Regions from separate parts of the Homo sapiens genome. Here region 2 is linked to region 1. The links come from fine-mapping of genetic effects on gene expression. A gene starts in region 1. The other region holds a variant in brackets. All regions are shown on one strand. Distances are from middle to middle.

Region 1 (8,689 bases):
GAATCTAACTTCTGTGAAAGAAAACTATACGGTGCACCATATCATGTGTAGAAAAAAAGGACCACTATACACAACGAACATATCCACACGTGTTGTGTCAACGTTCTCTTCCCAAATGTGGCCGCAGAAGAAAGTGCGAAGCATGCTGAAATAAGACAGTATTTACGGCTAAGGAAATTCGGCTTCACATACCGGTAATTATGAACAAGATATTTTCCCTAATAAAATTACTCCAAAACGAAATATAGAGAAACTGTTTCCCTATGTTCTCTTTATTTTATACCATGTGCTCAAGAATGGTCACAGAAAAGAGTCAAAGGGAGCAGAGAGAGAAAGAAAGAGAGCTATATAGAGAGCCGGCCTCTGCTGAGGGTTGGTTTTGCTTTAGAAACTGGAATGTGTCCAGGCTTGATTTTTATTTTCAATTCACATTTCAGATCCAGCTCCCCAAACTCTTTGATCTTTCTCCCTGTCTCCTTACCCGGAAGAGAACCCTTGGCCTTCTCAGCTGGGAGCTGGGAGCACACGTGGAAAGACTGGCTCAGATCCATATTCTTGCCAAATTTAGTCACACAAAGGGGCCTGCGAGGGAAAAAAGAAAGGATGAAAGCGGCAGCCGCCGCGACTTCAAAGGCCGCGCCGCCGCGCGGGGCCGTGCGCAGGCGCCTCCCTCAGCCGATATAAGGCACGGCTCGAGCGCGCGAGCGGCCTTTCCGCGCGCGTCCCCGACCCGGGGGGCGGGCCGAGGGACGCGGAGGGCCGGTGGGAAGGAGGGCGAAGGGTTGGATACCGCGGCCGTGCTACCCGCCGGCTTTTCGAGGCCGGTCCCCATGCCAAGTTCAGGCGCCTGAGAAAAGTTTTTCAGAAAGGAGGGACAAGAATGTCACGTCCTGCCCACGAAATGAGCAGTCCTGTGGCCCGCAAAATGACTCCAGCTCCCACCTCCATTCTAGCTCCGTTCTAGGCATTCCCCGTGCGTGGGAGCCTGGGTTCCCGTCACGGAGCGCAGCCGAGCGAGGAGGGCGCGTGGCCGGGCCCTGTCTGGCTCCTTCGGCTCCCCTGTGCCCGCCTTGCGTTCCTGGTTCCCGTGCGCTCTCCTACCGGCGCGATTCCTCTCCCCCTTGGGCAGCCTTAGGACGTGTGCCCTCGCCTCCCAGCTGGCAGAAGGGCGGCCTGCAGAGCGGGGTGGGATGCGCCCCTTCCCCGCGGGCCGCAGGAGGAGGCGGCCCTGTGGACAGCCGCGCCCCGGACCCCCACCCAGCGAGGCAGGGACGCAGGGCTCGGCCTGCACTGGCCCAGCGCTGGGAAAGCCGCAGGAGGGCGCGAGGGGTGGCGGACCCCGCTCGCTGGAGCCCCGCGTGGCTGCGCCGAGCTACAGACGCCAACGGGCGCCGGCCCCGCGGAAGTCCGACGTCCGCAGGCGGCCGGATTTGGGAACGACTTTTTCACGGTCCCACGAGTTCCCTGATACCCCGGAGGGTGGGGGGTTGAGTTTGTTTGTCTTTAGGAGGCGGCAAGAAGAAGGGGAAGAACCCCTGGGACACAAACTGCCATTTCCCTCGCCCCCCTTCTCTCCTTTTCCGCGAAGTCCGTTAAACTGAAGATGCCCACAGCTTTCGTCTCCGGGTGAAGCCGGGGTGGGAAATAGAGGGGGTCGGGGTTCCGCCTCTGGAGTCACATTATTCGTTTTCTAGCCCTTCTCCCTGGCTCCTGGGTATCCTCTTCCGTAGGCCCCGCCACCTCCTTCCTTTTGGATCCCACCAAAGTCGTAGCTGGGAGAGAGTCCAGGCCACACAAAGGGGAAGACCTGGAGCCTGGGCGGGGGTTAGGACCGAGGGGGCGGAGAGGACTCGAGGGGCACCGTGCTTTTCTCTCGTCCTTGTAATTAAGGACTCACTGGACTGTCTGTAGCCGACTCGAGTTGGCAGCAAAATCGCCGGGGGGAGGGGTTTTCTGGTGTGAGTGGGGGTCACTACCCTGTCTCTCCTGCCCGCTCCCGAGCGGGGCTGGGCTCCGCTTACCCAGTGAGCAGCGAGGCCGTCTCTTCTCCCCCGCTCCTCTGTTCTTGTGCGGGGTGGGCGCCTCGCCCCCCACGCGCAGTTGAGGCGACGGCGCCCGATGTAGAAGGAAGTGTTGATATAAAACAAGTTTGTTCCCAAACTAAACCCAAACCAAGCAAAGCCACCAGGAGGGGAAAAACCAACAGCAATCCAGCCAGCCCCTAGCAATTGTTTTCACGGTCGGAATTAAATCACATCAAAACGCCCCCTGAAACCCACATCCTGAAGGAGTGAACCTACAACAGCCAACCTCCAGTCGTTCGCTCGAGTTCACACGAACAACTTGCCTCTAACATCCGAGTGAAGGGGGCGGCGGGTGCCTCTCCCGCACCGCACCCACCACATCCCGGACCTGGGATCCCACTCGCACCCGAAGAGGCGGCTGCTTATGTTAATATCAGCCCCCACACGAATTAGAAAAGACCGCCCGGTGACAGAATTGCTTATGCCAGGAACTACACTGAATCCGTAAGGGAGGGGGAAGAACGTCTTCCCGGGGTTACTTCGCCCCTCCTGCGTCCTCCTGCTGTTTCCAAAAGACAGACTTCATGTGCAAATGTCAACCTCTCTCCCAAACGAAGCTTTAGAAATTTGGGGCGCATGGTTTTTACTAAAGCCCCTTCTAAGTGCTGCTCATCAGAAGATTTACAACAATCCTAAAGACAATCAGCTAACACAAGTTACACCACTGTAAGGAAAACAGCCACGCAAATAGAGCAAGGTGCTGGGTGATTTCGTTAGAAACAATGTTTTCAATGGACGGGGTCTCAGTAAAATACCAAACGCAGCCCCCTACCCTTGGCCCTTCAAGTAAACAGTTTCCCCTAGTTATTGTTCTAAAAATTCCCATCTTCTTGAGCTTCTAATCTTCAGGAAACCTGGAGCATAGGCTCCAAATTACTCGGGGAATCCAGAGTTAACATGAAGGAGAAAGTGGGATCTGAATTAGTTTCAGCACTTAAACAGCGGGGGGGATGTAAGAGTCATCATTTAATCTCTCTTCGGCTTCCAGAAAGTACCCCCTGGCCATTCTGTGTTCTCCCCTCCCCCTCCTGAGGGTTTGATGAAAAGGAACCTCTACTCTGCTTTGGTGAAACTGCATTTTCCACTTGTTTTCCTATTGGTCAAATTGGTGCAGTTATGGGAGGACTTTTGACTGTTTTCCCATGTGTCTTTTAAGAATGGGGCTATAAATGTCTGACACAGCTACACGTTCACCTCTCTGGGACACTACTCACACTGGTGCCTAACTTTAAGGGAAGTGACATACCACCATCATCCAAAAACAAAAATTGGGTTTCTCACACACTGTAGCAGAATATACTCTTTTTCTTCTCTTGAGGCATAGCATTGTCAGCTATTAAAAATGGATTTAATGTTTTAATTTTCCTGGATTCCTTCACCAACCCCTTAATTTCACCCCAATCTTCCAGATAGAATTTACATGTGACTACTGGCCATGTTGTAGGGACCAATTGGATCCTTTGTAAAGTTTTAAAAATTGCTTCCTAGTAAATTCTTATTCCCAAGAAGTAGTCGTTATTAGTAGGTGAAGTCATTAGTGCTCACTTAGATACAGCATTGTAAAAATCTTTACCCATTCAATGTTCAGCAGCCTGAAATTTCACCTTTAGGAAAAAAAGAGGGATCTTTGCCAGACAATTCCTATATAATGGAGCAAAATCTGATTCTGTAGTGTTTTGCTTGTTTTCGATTTAAGGGAGATGAAGATACATTTCTTTATGTCCTTTGTTTACTGTTCTGAAGTTTTACAGATGGTTACTGTATTGGATATAATAATTTTGCCTAGATTTTTAACTGAGGGGGTTTGAGAACCAAGGGACAAAATGTAATGTGTTTTCAAACTTCAGCTTCCCTTCTGCTGTAACTTTCACAAAGTATCTCCTGAAAACTCCTGTCTTTGTACAAAATTCATCAAAGAGACAGTGGAGACTGGGGAATTTTTGAGGTTGTATTCGGATTGGTGTCTTCAAGGGTCCCTTTCAGTTCGCAGTCCAAGGTGCCAGGGACTACCCCGTCCTCCCTCCCTCTTCTGGCTTTGCTCTCCTGAGTCCTTTTGCCTTCTCTTCCCCCTTCTTGGATTATCTTTTCATTCTCGATGAGGTTCCCACACACTGCGGTGTGTGTCTCTGAAAACCCACTGGAGACCTAGCACAACTCTCCGTACATCCCGTGGTGAGAACAGAATGAAAGATATATTGTTTAAAAAGCAATAATTAAAATCTAGTCTTCAGTTCCTTCTTCCTCGTCATATTTTTTCTCCGTAAGCCTAGAGATTTTATTTTCACTAGTGTGTTCCCTTGTCTCCAAAGAGCGTGTGTGTGATATTATATTCGGGAAAGCTACAACTCTCTTTTCCTTGTCCTTCTGTTCTCTCTTAATAGTTGAGCAATGTCTGTTATATTTTCCCCTTTTCCTTTTTTTCTCAGTCCCAGATTCCCGCCTCTCCCCACTGTCAGAGCATCTATCAATGTGGTGTCCATCACAGCGGCAGCGGCTTTCTCTTTCATCTTCCTCCCTCTGCCAGAGCCAGGGAGGGAGAGTGGGAGGCGTCAAGGAGGTAGGGGAGAGACTGGCAGAGGAAAAGGAGTGGGTGGGTGGGGGCCAAGTAAATAGATACTTAGATGATGAAGTCAAGCCACTGCGGCAATGTTTCTTGTCAGTTTCACGCGGGCAAAGCGTGCCTTTCGGTGGGTTATAAGCAGCGCCCGGTCCTTCCTTCTCTCGCCAAGTTGCCTGATCCTTCCCTCCAGGCGCGCGCGCACACACCACACTCACACACCCCAAAACCAAGACTCGTCCTACAGGATCTGGGAAAAGAAAAAGAAAAAAAAGCCCTCAATCACCACCTCCTTCTCGCCGACTCCCCCTCACCCCCCGCCTCCCCTCCAGCGGGCAGCCAAGGAGAGCTAGAGGCGGGGGAGGGGAGAGGGAGGAGAAGCGACGCAAGTGGGTAGCTTTTCAGCGCCGGCGAGGCGCGGGAGGAGGAGAAGCAGTGGGGAGGCGCAGCCGCTCACCTGCGGGGCAGGGCGCGGAGGAGGGACCCGGGCTGCGCGCTCTCGGGCCGAGGAACCAGGACGCGCCCGGAGCCTCGCACGCGGCCAAGCTCGGGGCGTCCCCTCCCCTCGGCCGGGCGAACTCAAGGGGCGCAGCTCTTTGCTTTGACAGAGCTGGCCGGCGGAGGCGTGCAGAGCGGCGAGCCGGCGAGCCAGGCTGAGAAACTCGAGCCGGGAACAAAGAGGGGTCGGACTGAGTGTGTGTGTCGGCTCGAGCTCCGGGCAGAGGCATTTGGGCCCGAGGCCCCCGCTGTGACTCCCCGAGACTCCGCAGTGCCCTCCACTGCGGAGTCCCCGCGCTTGCCGGCAAAAACTTTATTCTTGGCAAACTTCTCTTTCTCTTCCCCTCCTCCTCGGCCCCCATCTTCTGCTCCTCCTCCTTCTCTAGCAGATTAAATGAGCCTCGAGAAGAAAAACCGAAGCGAAAGGGAAGAAAATAAGAAGATCTAAAACGGACATCTCCAGCGTGGGTGGCTCCTTTTTCTTTTTCTTTTTTTCCCACCCTTCAGGAAGTGGACGTTTCGTTATCTTCTGATCCTTGCACCTTCTTTTGGGGCAAACGGGGCCCTTCTGCCCAGATCCCCTCTCTTTTCTCGGAAAACAAACTACTAAGTCGGCATCCGGGGTAACTACAGTGGAGAGGGTTTCCGCGGAGACGCGCCGCCGGACCCTCCTCTGCACTTTGGGGAGGCGTGCTCCCTCCAGAACCGGCGTTCTCCGCGCGCAAATCCCGGCGACGCGGGGTCGCGGGGTGGCCGCCGGGGCAGCCTCGTCTAGCGCGCGCCGCGCAGACGCCCCCGGAGTCGCCAGCTACCGCAGCCCTCGCCGCCCAGTGCCCTTCGGCCTCGGGGGCGGGCGCCTGCGTCGGTCTCCGCGAAGCGGGAAAGCGCGGCGGCCGCCGGGATTCGGGCGCCGCGGCAGCTGCTCCGGCTGCCGGCCGGCGGCCCCGCGCTCGCCCGCCCCGCTTCCGCCCGCTGTCCTGCTGCACGAACCCTTCCAACTCTCCTTTCCTCCCCCACCCTTGAGTTACCCCTCTGTCTTTCCTGCTGTTGCGCGGGTGCTCCCACAGCGGAGCGGAGATTACAGAGCCGCCGGGATGCCCCAACTCTCCGGAGGAGGTGGCGGCGGCGGGGGGGACCCGGAACTCTGCGCCACGGACGAGATGATCCCCTTCAAGGACGAGGGCGATCCTCAGAAGGAAAAGATCTTCGCCGAGATCAGTCATCCCGAAGAGGAAGGCGATTTAGCTGACATCAAGTCTTCCTTGGTGAACGAGTCTGAAATCATCCCGGCCAGCAACGGACACGAGGTGAGCGGGCCGCTGCCCCAGTTCCGAGAGGCGTGGCGGGTCCCTGGGAAACTCAGAGAGGGAGGAAGGGAACGAAGGCGCCCGGCCGCCCGGCTGAGGGTCCCGAGTAGATCCCTCGTTTGTTTTGGGGTGTGTGCGTAGCTGGGCCCCCGGTCCGCAGTGTGTGTGTGTGTGTGTGTGTGTGTGTGTGTGTGTGTGTGTGTAGGATGGGAGGTAGAGGGGCAGGGTAACTTATTCCAAATGGATCAGTTTAGGGGGTTCGGTGGCTGAACGGTTGGTTCGCGGGCAGGAACCCACAATGTTTCGCCTTCGGTCTTTTTGTTGGGCTGAGGGGTGCCGTGCTTTAAAGCGAGTAGGGCTGAATAACGCTACTGATAAATTCTTCCGTGGGACGGAAAACAAAGTGCACACGCTATCTCTTGGTAGATGTCTCTGCAAAAGTGCGTTAAACCACCAAAGGCTTAGGTGGAGACGAGCAGAGCCACAGGCGGGAGGAAGGGGAGGCGGGCGTGGGCTGGGGCAGGCGGGGCCGTCCCTACCACCGGTGAGCCGGGCCGCGGGGAGCAGGCCGGCCGATGGGGCGCGCACCCGGGCTGCGGGGGCGGTGCGGGGTTCAGTCCCTGCGGCCCCAGCGCCTGGGCTAGCAGCTGGGAGCTGTGGGTGCGCCGAGCCGACCCACCGCAAGGGTACACCCTGGCTGTACCGCCCCCAACTCTAGTTTTCTCCAACCGCCATCACTTGGAAACAAACCCACAACTTTTATTTGGGGTTTGGGACCGGATCAGGCCTTAAATCTACGCAGAAGAAAGGCGGAGAAGCAGCGGAAGCCGGGCACTAGTCCTGCAGGGTGGAAGGCGCTTTATCGGGTCTTCTGGCCCGCTGCGGGCGATAGAGCTGGTAACCTGAGTAGAGTAAATAGAGACACGTGGGTGCTGGCTAGAGAAAGCGCGGAGCAGGGCCGCGCTGGAGGGCTGTTTGAAGCCTAGTCCAGAGCTGGTCTAGGGGGCGGATGGACCCTGATACCCGACACTCCACTGGTCACCCTTGTTCCACAACTGGGAAACCCTCTGGAGGAAATCCGGTAGAAAAGTCCTGACACCCGAATGATTTAACCAACGCCTTTTCCCTCCAAAGAAACTTGGAGGATATACCTTTTTTTCCTTAAATGGCATCTTTCTACCCCCAAAAAGAAAGTGTGTGGTTTTGAGGGCGGGGACATTTTGGGTTTTAAACAGCGCGTTTAAGAACACCTCAGATCTGCCTTCTCTATCCCAATGGCAGAGGTGAGTACGAATTTTGAAAGGCTGGGGGCCTGCGTTCAGAGAACAGAATGGTGTTCTTTACCCGTTGAATCCAGTTTGAGCGGGCTGGGGGCGGGGGTAGGGTGCACCTAACCCCGCGTAAAAGATTTGTGACTACTGTGTGCTGGGAAAAGGAGGTCAAAGGGAGGACACACGTCCAGAGAACCGAATAACATCCAAAACACAGGCTTTTTGCCAAACTCTCCTATTTGTAGAGCAGCCTCTCTTTCTACCCATTTTGCTAGTCCTGCCTTAGTCCATAAATAATTTTGCCACCCACTTCATATTCTCCACAATTTTCTGGTCCGGGTGAAGGACACTGCGTTCGAATCCGAGAGCACTCGGGTGTTAAGTGGGCATGAGGAGGCCTGAGGGTGAAGGAGTAATACCACTGATTTGCACGTGTTTGAGGCTGTCTGGGTGGATGGTGATTACCAAAACTGATATCAACTGGGCTACCTTTTAGATGTCTATAACCTGACTCTCTAATTTTCCTCCCTTTAACCACAGAATCGTTCTACTTTTGTAAGCCTGCACTCAGCCAGCCATAGTAGGTTATAAGCTCGAGTGGAGCTTCTGCTGTAACTGCGCTCAGGGCAGTTGCCTTAAGACCGCATCTGAGTGGTTGGCTTGTTTATGTTTAAATGCCATTTTCAGTTGCAAAATGATATTTCAGCCTTCTTTTAATCAGATCTGATTGAAGTGAACAGTGGTTGAAGAGGCTATCGAAACCATCAACCCCATTAACTCCTACTCCTGTAATATTAGGCATCCAAGGAGCCTTGATATGGTTTAATAAACAGCAGTCAGAACAGCATGTGGATCATTCCCAAATTTAACTATATTTTTATTGGTTTTGTTATTATTTATACGTTTTTGGTCCCGGGTGGATAATAATCACTCAAAAATACATGTTGACAAGAAAAGGATTATGCAGTACTA
Region 2 (8,689 bases), 950 kb after region 1:
ATGTATTCCAGGTATACAAGGATGGTTTATTATTAGAAAATCCATAAATGTACCTTACCATATTTACAGAATAATACAGATAACCAAAAGATCATTTCAATAGATAAGTCTTTCATCAAACTTAAAACCCACTTATGATTTTAAAAACTCTTCTTCAATTAGAAATGAGAAAGGATAGTTCTTAACCTGACTAAAAGCATCTATAAAATAATCCAAAAGTTAACATTATCTTAAATGAGCAAACATTGGAAGCATTCTCTTTGAAATCAGGAATGGCACAAGGAAAAAACTTATTACCACTTTTGTTCATAATTGTACATGAAGTCCTATACGGTATAATGAGGCAATCAGAGATATAAGGATTGGAAAGGAAGAAACAAAATTGTGATTATCTACAGATTATTTGTAGATTATGTGATTTCTATAGAAAACCCAAAGAGTAAACCTTCACATTATTAGACACAACATGGGAATTTAGCAAGGTAACTGCATATAAGATTAATATAGAAGATTCATTGTGTTTTCTCTTTAAATATAGTTTTAATGGCTTGCTGCTGACGAATAGAAACACACCATTTTAAATTCTCTTTCCAATCCCGATTAAACTAGACCACAGAGCCAAAAGTTCATTGCAATTTAATAGTTTTTTCTTTTGTTCTGCTTTGAGAGCAGAATCTCCTAAAACCCAGCTCTAAACTCAGGCATGTGATATGTTGTCTGATATCATTTTAAAGACAAAAGTAAAAACCCCAAAAAACAAAAAAAAAAATGATGCTGCTAAACCATCTCAGAATTGTAGTCTTCAGTACAGAATTACAGCAGGTGCTCTGCCCTTAGTGCTAGTGCTGGGAATCACATGTGCTTTCATCTATTATCTGAAAGTTTTCTAATTTTAAAAATTTTCATCTCTCATGATGAAAATAAATAGTTGTTTAATTTGAAAAGTAAGATGCTAAGTGTGAGTCAAAACAAATCTATGTGACTTTGAAATGGGGGTGATATTGGAGCCTAGATTTTATTTTCTTCTTTTTTCTCAAGAGTAATAATTTCCTCAGGACACTGAAAAACCAACTCAGAAAGCAAGTGGCTGAAGGTATGTGTAGTTCATGTGCCCATAACTATCAAGTAATTTAAATTAATAGAATAGTTAGCGTAATTACTGAGTAGAGAAATAGGTACTACATCATCTAGCTGTGCATGTCCAAACTCCTATCACTAAATCAGATGTTAGACTTTCCTTTTAAGGACATTGCTTTGCTACATTTCTTGGAGAAGATTTGTTTTTGTGTTTCTTATAAAGAAATTCAATGAATTAAAATGTCCCATGGATTAATGGGGAGCTTAAACTTCAAAAGTTTCCTTCATTATTTCCTTAGCATTAACACAGGAAATCAATTAGGTCATAAAGATAGGTCTTATTATCAGAATGTTCTCCACGATTTTGAACATAATAGAGAAAGAATGCTTCATATGGTAACATCAAAGCTTAAACTAGTAGGACTTATTGTATTGGTTAGAAGATGATACATTTCATTTCTCTTTTTACAAAAGGAAGGGGTTGACTATTGCTTAATGGGTTGTATAAAAGTCTCTTATGCTTTGAGTCTGTTATTGCATCTGCATTTTATGAAAAACTCATATTTTGGGCTTAGCAGATGGACTCATTTGAATTAGATTTGCTTGAAAGAGTCTTTCCAAATTATACTATTTAAAAGATTAAAGTAGTAGATTTGCCTCAAGATTTTCTAGAACAATGGTTAAGCCCAAGACCCCTTAGGATAAAGACATGGTTGTAACAAACACCCAGAACTCTCTTAGGTGGTAGGGGCAGAATCCTTCTAGGAAACCCACAGTGCTTACCTCAAAGCCATGGGAAAAAAAGCTCATGTTTTTCTGACTGACTGACCCAGATTCTTCAGCTGCAAAGCAAGTAGCCTATGAAATTTGCTTTTAATTTCCAAATAAAATCCATTTGACTAACACTCAGCATCCCAACATATTGCAAAAACAGAAATTTCACAACACTAACTAAACATAGTACATATTTGCTGCAAACATTTCATGAGATGGGGTCAGTTGCTTCAGAAGATAAACTGTTTCAGAGAAACAAAAAAACCCCTCAAATGCTAGCAATTCTTTCTGTTTTTAGGCTTTTAATAAAATATGTGGGAAGTGGTCACAGAGACCTGAGGATCCTGGTAAGAATTTATTTTTAAAAGCAGTTGTCGAAACATCCTAGTTATTTTCTACTTTTTAATTAGAAGAATACAATTCTTGTTCTTATGCACAAGTTCTGTGAACATAGATTTAAAAGAAACCTGAAGGCTTTTGGGGAACAACGTGCTCACTGGGGGAATTAGCTGGATGGAAAGAAAGCTGAATGGGGCAAAATGAATAGTTTTTAGTACACTCAAGATCCAATTTGAAAAGCAGTCTAGGAAAAAAAATTAAGTGGAATTGGCCAACTTTGGTCCAATACATTTTTCTATTCTGGGTAAGAGAAGTAATGGGGACATGGGATAATATGACTTTTTCCTTCTCTTTCCTTACTTCTACCTTCCCTCCCTCCCTCCTTCCCCACTCTCCCTTCTTTCCTTCCTTCCTTCCTTCTTTCCTTCCTTCCTTCCTTCCTTCCATAACAAACTAAGGAAAGAACATCATCAATGATGGGCATATAGATAGACCTATGAAAAGCAAATTGACTTACAGATATTCTTTGTTATTAATAAAGGGGTGCTTTGCCTGGAGACACTTCAGGAATCCAAGGATGAGCTTTGGTGGTTGATGAAGTCCCTAAATTCTCAACATATGCAATTTGCATTTTTCTAGGAAGAATGAACTTTTGTCTTTCACCAGATTCTCAAGAGGCTCCATGACCTTGAAAAGTATAAGGACCCTTAGTAGAAAGCCTTTAAAGCAAATGCAATAGTTAAACACTGCTATAATTTTTAAATGATATTTTAGAATACCTATGAATTTCTTAAAACATTTTTTCAAGCAACTTCAGATTAGAATTTTTCTTGTAGCACTACTAAAACAGGACTTTTTTCTACTTAAAATTCTCTATCTCACTAAAATTAGTGGGCAGAAGTTTGGGGGAGAAAAAGGAATTTGCATAGTCTTAAATGATCTCCTTCAAAGTTTTATCTATATAGGGAAAAATAATAAATTTACAGTGGAGAAAGCCAGCATATACCACATTAGTCAAGTGTAATGAGACATATATGTACCATTAACCCCTTGATAAGATTCCTTGAGAAAGAAATGACATCATTTCTGTGGTATTATTGCCAGCAATGCAGAACTTCCTTCTAATGTTGACACAAAAACCAGAGAAACCCAAACCGAGAGACATTCTACAAAATAACTAATCAGTAATCTGCAAAGTATCTATATCAAGAAAGATAGAAAAATTGAGGAGCTGTTATGGATCAGAGGAGACTGAGGGGTATTACAACAAAATACAAGGTAGGATCCTGGTGGAATCCTGAAATGAAAAAAAA[G/AG]AACATTAGTGAACAAACTGGTGAAAGTAGAATAAGGTCTCTAGTTCAGTTAATAGAATTATATCAGTGTTAATTTCCCAGTTTTGATAATTGTCCTATGTTTATGTAAAATGTTAACAAAAGGGGAAGCTTCATGAGTGGTATACAGGACTCTTTTACAAGTCTTGATACATTTTCTATAATTCTAAATTTAGTGCAAAATAAAAAAAAATAATAAAACAGAAAACCTGATGACATCATTTTAACTTTTGGGCCCACTTTTGCCTGAATTCTGACAATCTTCTAACAGTGCAACTAGGTAAGACAATACATTCCCTCTTTTCTTAAAAGATTAAGACAAAATAAAATAGTCTTTCTTCTTTGTTACTCTAGGCAATGTACTTGAGCTCATTAATGCCCTACAAATATGTTAAATTATTTTGATCTTTCCTCTCTCTTTGATTTTGTTGAGTTATAAATATGGATTCTCATTTGACTAAGCATCCTTGATTCAATTGTCCTTTATTCTTGACCTTGGACACAAGATCATACTTTTGTGTCACATCTAGGCATGGATCATTGACTTAAAGTTTCTGGCTATTGATTTTTATGTGTTTAATAATTACTAGAAGATCAGTTATGACCTTTTGTTATTAAGTTGGAATAGATTGCCTTTTCTCTTTTTCATAATTTTTGCAGAATGCTTCCTAGTAGACATACTATATTGTTTACTATCAGACATCTAATAGCTCTTTGTACCAAGAGGATGTGTAGGTTATCTTACACTGTTCCTCCATCTTTCATTCACTTAAAAAATACTTGAGTGATTACTAAGTGTCATTATTTTTCAGATGAGAATAAGACAAGCAAGATCTCTTCTTGTTCATCACCATCATATCTGTATTTCACCCCATAGAAGGGAGGAAAAAGGGAGTTTGGAATTAGTGGCTTTGCATTTAGAGATCACTTGGAAGTTGCACACATATAAGTTCTGCTCATATCCATAGCCCAAACTTAGTTGTGTGGCTTTACCTCATTAGAACAAAAGAGGCAGTCACGTACTCTTAAAACTTGCTGGAGGAGGCTGAGCGCGGTGGCTCATGCCTCTAATCCCAGCACTTTGGGAGGCCGTGGCAGGCGGATCATGAGGTCAGGAGATCGAGATCATCCTGGCTAACGTGGTGAAGCCCCGTCTCTACTAAAAATACAAAAAATTAGCCGGGCGTGGTGGTGGTCGCCTGTAGTCCCAGCTACTTGGGAGGCTGAGGCAGGAGAATGGTGTGAACCCAGGAGGCAGAGCTTGCAGTGAGCTGGGATTGTGCCACTGCACTCCAGCCTGGGCGTCAGAGTGAGCGTCTCAAAAAAAAAAAAAAAAAAAAAAAAACTTGCTGGAGGAGATCATTATTTTAAAGAAAACAGAGAATAAGGAGATATCTGCCACACTGGATTTTAAATGCAAGACTCATAAATACTGATCTGCTCCTTAAAAACTTCACTCTAATAGCTTTGTGGATAATGGAGTTCAGTGGAGCAAAAACAGAAATTTGGAGACCAGTTAGGAGGCTATTTGCAGTTGCTTAGGTGGTAGATCATGGTGGTTACTTGGGAGTTGGCATGATACACATTCAATGTTAACCAGTAACAAGTTAAAGTCTCACTTGGATAATGAAATCATTGTAAAATTTAATAAAATATAGAGTATTACAGTTGCCTTTACATAATCATTGTTTCCTATACCTGGAGGCTGATTGTATTATTATATATACAATTATTTTACAAGTAAATATAATAATTTACTTTGGTTTTATTTTGACCACCAAGCTAATAAGTCTGATTGGCTTTTCAACATGATATTAGCTGAAAGATGAGTTAATAAGTTTTTGTCATCATGCAAGTGAGAGATGATAGTGGCTGGACTAAGACTGTAGTAGTGTGGATAGAGAAAAGAAGGAAAAGTTAGGATATACAGTATTAACAGGTATAGTCACAGAACTAGCAGATGGAATGTGAGAGGTAAGAACAAGAGAAATTAAAAATGGCTCATAGGTTTTAGCCTTTATCAATTTGGTGAGTGTTTCTGCCATTTACTGAGACGTAGACAATGGAGAAGAAATGGGTTTCCAGGAGTGAGCTGAAATCAAGATTTACATTTTGGTCATCTTATGTTTAAGATCTCTAACAAAAAACAAAATTAATATTCAATAGCTGATTAAATATAAAAGCCTGGGGTTTAGGTACCAGGTCAAGGGAAAGATAATCTATAAACTGACTGGGAGTTCATACGACACAAATGTTCCTGGGAATTTTGAAGGGTGAAGTGAAGCAAATAAACCCAGGAGAAAGTGGAAAGTTCCAGGAGATGGGTCCTGCAGCAATACCAATAATAATGAAGTCTCAGAGTGAGTAGGCTGGGCTTACTTGCTGAACTAATGGCTCTACCTTTGGTAGCATTCACAGATGGAGAGGTGCCCATTCTCCACAAAATACTTAAATTTTTATGGTGACTCTACATAATTAAGTGGATAATGGCAACAGTGGATAGGGATGTCCTAGAATTCTTTTTAGAAAGAGCCACCTCAAATAATGTGCAGTTCATAAGCCGTCAGCTTCTGCCCTTTGCATACTCCACATTCTTTTGCACTATGGTGTCTTTCTTCTTAACTCCCCAGACCTGCTCACTGAGACCTGGTAAACTTTCAAGGTCAGTTGATATTTTCATCAGGATAGGTCAGTAGAACTTTGCAAGCATATCATAATGCTTGGAGGCATCATTTGTGCATTCTTGAACTTGAGTCTAGGTCCAAAGATTTTACAGGAACACACTGAACTTTTTGGAGCTGGTCTCTCATAGGTAATGACAACACTCCAGATAGACAACCAGGAGTAAAATTGGGAATGATGAAGTGTTACTTTGCAGTGCTTGCCACTTTGAACTTTTTATTTGGTCTCCTACAGCCTACTCTTCTGTCTCTTTCCCTTCCCATCTCATCTTTTATCCTCTTGTATCACTTTTTAACAGTTCATCACAAAGGGAAAGTAAGAATTGGATGGCCTCCCTCTCATTTTGTAACACATTGGACTAAAAGTGGATCTTTGAGAGTAATCATTTCCAGAAAGGACTTGCATTGTGTGCCAGTAAATTGACTATTACCTCCAAATACATGAGCATGTAGGGGCATTGTGTGTTGGGTTGGGAGGGGTGTTATTTTTTTTTTTCTCTTGCCAAGACACAGTGCTGTTTTCCTGTGCTCCTGGTCTTTATTTTGGGAGAACCACATCTTCTATCTGATGAAACATTTTAATAAAATCAGAAGCCAACATGCCTTCTATTCTAAGTTCTCTCTCTCACTTTCCTCTTAAGCTCCAGGTCATTATGTAAAAATCAAAGCAGAAATGCTCCTTTATTCACTTATTTGTTGTTCAGTCATTTATTGTTTATTGAATACCGATGCCTGCTCTGCACTGTAGTGAGAATTTCAAGAACTTTGAGATAGTTTTATGGTAGTTGTTTCTGTAGTGTTTAAGATTTTTCTTAGGATGATAGAACTTATGCTTTAACCATCTAAAATATAATTATAAGCTAATATTTGATTATGTTTGTAATTGGGTGGGTCAGTCTCAAGCCATGAATACTCAGGAAATTCAGAATAAGATACAAACTATAGTGGGCATAGGATTGGTAACTGGTAACTTTTTAGAAGAGAAACTCTTTAAGTAGCCTTGAAAGAAGTTTAGGGGTTGGGCAGGTCACACAGTAGATAGATTACAATCCTTTGCCAAATTTCAGTCCCTATTTTTTTATGTGAGTGGGAAAGCCTCCAAGGATTCTAGGAGATAGTCTTGGTTCTGATCCTTCTTATGTTAAAAGTTATCCATCAACTTCTGCAGTGTGTTTTGCTCATTATATTCAAGTCTTTTCTCCGCGTAGTAAGCGTCTTAATTTCAAGGTCTATTTCCGTCCAATCTTAGCATCCCTCTTGGCAATTGGCACAATTTTCTGAATTCCTGACAGATTGCTTTTGGGGAGTGAGAAATAAGTAAAATAATGTCATTCAGGTAAGGTCCAAGTTACATTTTCATTCTCCCTTGAGGTAGTTGCTTGGGAGCTCATTAAGAATGGACCACAGTCAAAGCTCTGGAAAATTCAGTCCAAATTCTGGGCCAGGCTGTGTTGGAAAGTCTTCTTCTAGACAGATATCAAGGGAGCATCAAAGGCTGACAAATAGCAAAAGCAAATACTAGAGATGAAAGGGCCCTTTCATGATGACCTCAAAGTTAGTCAACACTCATTCAGGTGCCTTGGAGAAAGGCATACCATAGTATTGAAGAGCATGATCTTTGGAGCCAGGATGCTTGGGTTCAAATTCAAGTGGTGCCCACTTCTTCCTAGCAGCTTGACCGGACATATTAATTAAGCCTTCTCTGTCTCAGTTTCCTCATCTTAACCTGAAGATAGTAACACCACCTTTTCCATAGCACTGTTGTGAGGATTAAACAAGACAGTATCTATAAAGTGCTTAGAAATGTCCCTGGCCATCATCGTCATCATCAAATTTTTATTTAGAAAGCAGGAATAAAATGGAAACATAAGGATTATTTTGGAAAGAGAAATATGTGGGTGGTTTAGGTAAGGAAGGAATAATGAATGAAATATTTTAAGTGCTAAGCTGAGTAGTTTAGTAGACAAAGGTGATCAGTAATCACTGGGTAAGATGTTTCAGCCTCAGATCTACGGGCCAAATCATCTGGAATTAGAGACTTAGAGACTCAGAGCCAGGGATTGGTTTGGTGATGGTGGAGGAGGCAACTTAAATATGGCAAAGAGAGCAGATAGCCAACCATGAAATTCCATTACATGCTTAGTGTGCAGAGGACTTTTATAGCAAAGTAAATATTTGTACCCCTATTTAGTCAGCAAACATTAAGGTGTTCGGCTAGTATTATCAAAGCAAATAACTTCATCATTGTATCTGTCCTCATAGAGTTTATGGTTTTGCAGGTAGCCAGATTTTTAACAACTTCAATAAAGTGTGATGGATGTGAAGAGGGAGAAGCCCAGATGGCTGTGGAAAGCATCTCCTGGTCTGTTTCTCTCTCTGCCCACTCCATGCTGCCAACGGATGCACTTAGGAACCTTTCGAATCTGGCTCAAAACCTACCTTCATCCAAAAGTCATTGTTGGTGGTTTCAATATTTTTATTTTTTCT

Alleles and levels. Alleles are on the strand shown, and positions count from the first base shown. SD is a standard deviation of normalised expression in the study named.
With allele AG in place of G in region 2, the expression in esophagus muscle of the gene that starts at base 5,069 in region 1 is lower (small effect, 0.39 SD a copy in GTEx).

Evidence for each region. PIP is the estimated chance that this variant, and not a neighbour inherited with it, causes the effect.
Region 2: its variant is fine-mapped to the expression of LEF1 in esophagus muscle (GTEx, PIP 0.99).

The regions. Positions count from the first base shown.
Region 1 is chr4:108,165,312-108,174,000 of GRCh38, reverse strand. LEF1 (lymphoid enhancer binding factor 1) reads left to right here and starts at 5,069. Exons shown (of 12, transcript NM_016269.5): 1 at 5,069-6,446. The coding sequence starts at 6,234. It overlaps LOC124900752, which reads right to left and starts at 6,062. Exons shown (of 2, transcript XM_047416528.1): 1 at 5,099-6,062; 2 at 3,031-4,891. The coding sequence starts at 5,501. The coding sequence ends at 4,305. LEF1-AS1 (LEF1 antisense RNA 1) reads right to left here and starts at 6,476. Exons shown (of 3, transcript NR_029374.1): 1 at 6,168-6,476; 2 at 482-582. RefSeq lists silencers at 604-793, 1,034-1,283, 5,070-5,119, 6,876-7,115 and enhancers at 2,679-3,309, 5,380-5,469, 6,497-6,998.
Region 2 is chr4:107,214,464-107,223,152 of GRCh38, reverse strand. No RefSeq gene overlaps it. Among named protein-coding and RNA genes, the nearest start is that of DKK2, 180 kb to the right of the region's middle. The variant G/AG (reference allele first, on the strand shown) is at 3,504.